2 separate regions of the Homo sapiens genome follow, and region 2 is linked to region 1. Evidence: fine-mapped expression QTL. Tissue or cell type: whole blood. Region 1 holds a variant in brackets; the other region holds the start of a gene. All regions are shown on one strand. Distances are from middle to middle.

What was found. PIP is the estimated chance that this variant, and not a neighbour inherited with it, causes the effect.
Region 2: PFKFB3 starts here. The variant in region 1 is fine-mapped to the expression of PFKFB3 in whole blood (TOPMed, PIP above 0.99).

Annotation. Positions count from the first base shown.
Region 1 is chr10:6,123,590-6,126,343 of GRCh38, forward strand. It overlaps LOC101928080 (a long non-coding RNA gene), which reads right to left. Exons shown (of 3, transcript XR_930619.3): 2 at 2,367-2,522. Among named protein-coding and RNA genes, the nearest start is that of MIR3155A, 27 kb to the right of the region's middle. The variant A/C (reference allele first, on the strand shown) is at 1,554.
Region 2 is chr10:6,201,665-6,204,291 of GRCh38, forward strand. It overlaps PFKFB3 (6-phosphofructo-2-kinase/fructose-2,6-biphosphatase 3), which reads left to right and starts at 1,268. Exons shown (of 15, transcript NM_004566.4): 1 at 1,268-1,672. The coding sequence starts at 1,597. PFKFB3-AS1 (PFKFB3 antisense RNA 1) reads right to left here and starts at 1,093. Exons shown (of 2, transcript XR_007062045.1): 1 at 776-1,093. RefSeq lists an enhancer at 493-997, a cis regulatory region at 931-1,462 and silencers at 991-1,320, 1,371-1,480, 1,601-2,110, 2,341-2,420.

The DNA of each region.
Region 1 (2,754 bases):
GTGTCTATCCATGGACGGGTTCGTGACAAACCCCTGTGGGTCCCTGGCTTGCTGAAACCAGGTTTCACATGAGGGGAGGAAGTGGCTTGACAAGAAGGGGGTTGCTAAGGGAACTTTATTACTCATTTCTCTTGGAAAAAAGCAGAAGGAATAAATGGAATAAAAGTCTGATAATTTGGCAGACATGCTTTGCAGTTACTTGCAGTACTGTGCTTAGGTTCAGAATAAGGAACTAAGTAACAATAATTGACGCTGAATCTCTTCAGAAGTAAGCTGATGGTGACTCAATAAACTCTCCCAGATGACCGCTGTATACACAGGTATTTTATGAGGGTGCAACTGGATTAAGTCATTCTGAACTGAATTTTGCATAATTATTACCAAAATTTGGATTGAAAAGTAAGTTTACAGTTGGCATTCCTATTTAATTTTAGTTTTTGTCAAAATAATATCTGTACATAATTATAAAATCAACTAAGTCTTCAAATACTCATAAATCAGAACAGCACTCTGCCTCCACCAGTCCCATTCTCCAAAGGAAAACACATTCAGTTCTTGTTTTTTTTTCTTGTTGTTGTTTTGGTTTTTGCATTTTTCTTTTTTCTTTTTTTTTTTTGAGACAGAGTTTTGCTCTTGTCGCGCAGGCTTGAATTCCTGGGCTCAAGCGACCCTCCACCCTTGGCCTCCCAAAGTGCAAGGGATTACAGGTGTGAGCCACCATACCAGCCTTCAAGGGCAGTTCTGATGCCTAACACCTGCTGATCCAGCTCAACAATATTGGATCACTTGAGGTCAGGAGTTCGAGACCAGCCTGGCCAACAGGGTGAAACACTCTCTCTACTAAAAACACAAAAATTATCCTGGCATGGTGGCGTGTGCCTGTAAGCCCAGCTATTTGGGAGGCTGAGACAGGAGAATCACTTGAACCCAGGAGGCAGAGGCTGCAGTGAGCCGAGATTGTGCCGCTGCACTCTAGCCTGGGTGACAGAGTCAAACTCTGTCTCAAAAAAAAAAAAAAAAGTCTCCGATGCCCTCTGGCCTTCATGGTGGACATTGGCATGTAAAGCTCACAAACACCTTCTCCCTTGCAAGGAGGATGATACAGAATCTTCACATTCTTCTGCATGGCACCAATTGTGCTATTTTAACAACAATGACTGTGCAGAAATGAAGCCAGTGCTTTTTTCCTCCAAGCCTTTGGACAAAGCATGTTTTATGACAAAAATAATCCCTCCGGCTCACATGTCCTCTCAGGCTTCCCACTGCTCTCCCACACAGCCTCTCGCTCCGAGAAGTGAGTCCCCTCCCGCTAATGCCAATCCTTCGGGCACACCCAGAACTTGTTTCCAGAGACTGAAATAACATTTCCAACGGGGTGGTGCCACCGGATTTGCTGAGCTGTTTAGTGGCCCATAGTGAGCTGATTTGTGTTGGGTAGATTATCTTCCCTGGGCGTGACGGGAAGGAGAGACTCAAGGCAGAACTTCTTTTTGAAACAAATGAATTTGGAAATATTAGGCAAGGAGGAAATAGTGATATAACTTGTTTTTTCC[A/C]GTATTGAAAGATGCCACCTCTGTACTTAACCACAGAGTAAGAAATATTCAGGAAAGTATATATTTTTATAGCATTGAAGTTAACCATTGAAGAGGGATTTATTAAGAGCTTACTATTAGGCAGTATGAGAATTTGTTTAAAGTATTAGATACCCCAAAATCCTATTCAAAAAGACACAAATATGATTCTAAAATATGTAAACAACAATGCTAGTAAACAAATGAAGGTATAATATAATTTGGCCCAAGAAACCCCCACGTTCAGAGCTTAGAGAAAATATATTACTTTTTTCCCCCTTTCTGGCTTTTACAGCCTTACTAAAACAAAAACAATTCTGGTGACTGAAGATTCAAAAAACAAAACAAAACAAAACAAAAAACCAGCCGGGTGCGGTGGCTCACGCCTGTAATCCCAGCACTTTGGGAGGCCGAGGCGGGCAGATCACAAGGTCAGGAGATCGAGACCATCCTGGCTAACATGGTGAAACCCTGTCTCTACTAAAAATTAAAAAAAATCAGCTGGGTGTGGCGGCACGCGCCTGTAGTCCCAGCTACTCGGGAGGGCGAGACAGGAGAATCGCTTGAACCCAGGAGGCGGAGGTTGCAGTGAGCCAAGATCGCGCGGCTGCACTCCAGCTTGGGCGACAGAGCGAGACTCGGTCTCAAAAAAAAAAGAAAAAAAAGAAAAAAATTGTAATTCCAAAGCGTGAACCCTTCACTGAAGCCACTGAACACTCTCATCCACGCCAAAACTTCAAAAGTTAACACTGGCTTGCACAGTTTGACTGATCCTGGAGCGGCAGAGTGACTCACCGTCTGCAGCCAGGCCTGGACGGCACTGCTGGTCCTAAGTCCCTCAGCGTTCAGGTCTCAGTCTACCCAGCCAGAGACGACCGCTGCGCGTCCTCCGTCAGATGGCAAAGCCACGACTTTGTGCCGACCTACAGAACGCCAGTTAATCTTGGGAATCTGAAATGATTCATTTTATTTAGCAAAGTGTTTTCAATTCCTTCAAGATTGGTGCTTGTCTAAACCATTTGCTCTGAGTGAGTTGTAAGGAATCAGGCACGAAGCACCTTAAATACCCCAGGCTCAGGGTGTTTTGAACAGGCCTTGCAGGCCGGCAGAGGCCGTCTCCTCCTACCCAGAGAGCAGCGCTGTGGACCTTGCTGAGCTGGTGACCTGTCATCTCCAGCCCTTC
Region 2 (2,627 bases), 78 kb after region 1:
TCTGCGCAGACTTTTCCGCCGCGGTGTAGGTTTCAGCGAGCGCCGCCTTCCCTCCAATCACAGCCCAGCCTCAGCGCTAAGTGTGCACCTCTCTGCAAGGCGGCGCAGCGCTCCCGTACTGAGGCTTCGTTTGCAAAAGTTACATCCGTCCCGGCGCGGGCGGCGGTTCCCCACCAAAAGCAACCCAGATCTTCCCCGCACGCCTCTGACCTGACTGCACGACTGTCACAAGTCGCGAGCTGGTGCAAACTGCGAGGGCCGGGAAAGGAGACGGGGCACGCATGCACCAAAAAGTGGGGAGGCAGAGCTGCAGGGTGTGCAGGATAACGGAGTGAATTTTAGGAGTCTGCCTAATAAGGGGCCGCCCCCAATAGTTTTCCCTCGACTTAGGTAATGAATTGCAGATCGAAATGGGTCTAGTTTTATTCATTCTTCTACTCGGGGCGATAAAGGTTTATTGAATGGTGTACATGGTGAGTGTGAAAACCAGATGCCAGCTGCCCCCAGCCCCAGTCCACTTCAGTCCAGCTCCCCGGGGCTTTCCCGCCCCCTCCTCGTACCCAGCACCGCGGGCCTCTCAAGGTTCCCAGTCTTTGGGCTAGGGGAGGGGAGCAAGGCTCAGTTCAAGTCCAGGTTTCTAAGGGATTCAGCAAAGTGGACAAGGACGAGGTGAGGTGGGAGGATCAGGGAAGCCTCCTCCCCGCGGGTCGCCCGGGTCGTGGCGGGGGATGGGCTCACGGGTATTATCAGGGAGCAGCCTGGCCCATGTCCTTACCTGGACTGCGCCTGCCCCACAGCGCGTGTTAGGAATGCAGAGTATTGGGGCTCCATGGCCCTAAAGGAGCTGCATTGGTAGGATGCACTTTAAGCAGCTTCCCAAGGGATTCGGCTGCGGGGTCCACGGTCTACACTGGGCAGGACTGCGTCTCTGCTCTCCTCCCGGCCAGCACAGTTGAGGTGAGGGGCCGGAATTAGTCGGGGAAGCTGTGCCAGACGTCCCGAGGGGACAACGGGACGAGGGGATAACAGCAGCCAGGACCCTTCAGCAGGGCTGGGCGCGCTCCAGGCCCGGGGCAGGGCGGCGGGAGCTGGTGCACCGCCGTCGCCGGCCCGCAGGGGGAGCTCGCAGGCTGCTTCCCGGCTCGCCCACCCTCCTCCCCACGTGGAAGGGGGCTGGGACCCAAGGAATGCGGCCCGCCCCGAGGCTGACGTACGCGTCTGCGGCCAGCCCGGACTCTTTAAAAGCCGGCGGTGCGCGGGGCATCCCAGCCAAGCCGGAGAGGAGGCGAGCAGCAGGGCCTGGTGGCGAGAGCGCGGCTGTCACTGCGCCCGAGCATCCCAGAGCTTTCCGAGCGGACGAGCCGGCCGTGCCGGGCATCCCCAGCCTCGCTACCCTCGCAGCACACGTCGAGCCCCGCACAGGCGAGGGTCCGGAACTTAGCCCAAAGCACGTTTCCCCTGGCAGCGCAGGAAACGCCCGGCCGCGCGCCGGCGCACGCCCCCCTCTCCTCCTTTGTTCCGGGGGTCGGCGGCCGCTCTCCTGCCAGCGTCGGGATCTCGGCCCCGGGAGGCGGGCCGTCGGGCGCAGCCGCGAAGATGCCGTTGGAACTGACGCAGAGCCGAGTGCAGAAGATCTGGGTGCCCGTGGACCACAGGCCCTCGTTGCCCAGATGTGAGTGCAGCTGCGCGGAGCCGGGTTGCAGGGCGGGCTGCGCCGGGCCGGGCCATTGTGTGGGGCGGCTTTGTGCCGACGCCCCTCTGCGGGGGGCGCGCCCGTGCGGGTCGCGCCGGCGGGGCGGGGCGGAGGCGCGGGCTGCGCGTCCTTGGCCGGGCGGCGGGGGCGCTGTGGCCCTTGTCCCGGTGGCTGCCCCGCCGGCCCGGAAACGGCGAGTGCGCCCGGCCGGGCTGCGTACCCCGAGACGGAGGGACGCGCGCGCCTGGGCAGGCCAGGGAGGGGATCCACATCCTCCGCGATCCCTGTCCTCGACACCCGTCTCGGGCGGCCGTCGCCGGAGCGCAGCCCAGGGACCCGGCCGCTCGCGCCTCCGCCCCTTTTCACCGTCCGGATCTCCTCTCTCTGCATGTTTCCATCTCCTCTCCCGCCTTGCTATGCATTCCTATCCCCTCGCTTCACTTAATAACCTATTTCTCTGTCCTGTTTTCTCTTTCGATATATATGTCTCTGTTTTTCTCTGTTTCTACCTCCTTCCTCTCCCACTGTTTCTTTCTGCTTTTATCTCTTTCTCTCTCCTTCTCTCTCTTCCGTGCATCTCCAGTGCCATGGGGGCGCCCGTGCTGGGGGCGCCAGGAGAGCCACCTGGAGCCACGCCTGTGTCCCCGGCTTTGGGGAGGGTCGGTGGGTTGGTGAGTGCACGGTTGGCGCTGCTCCACGCGCCCCGGGCGCACGCACCCCCCGGTGCTCGGAATTGGCTGGCAGTACCCTGCCCCGCCCCGCCGGTCGCCGCCCCCGCCACCAGCGATCGCTTGGGAGAGGGTTACCTCGAGCTCCACCTCAGCTGCGGAGCGCCGCCGCGGAAAAGGGCGGGTGGGCAGCGCAGAGGGGCGACGCTGCCTCTCCAGGTAATGCGCCCCGGCTCCCATGGGCTGGACAGGGAGCCGCCTGGTGC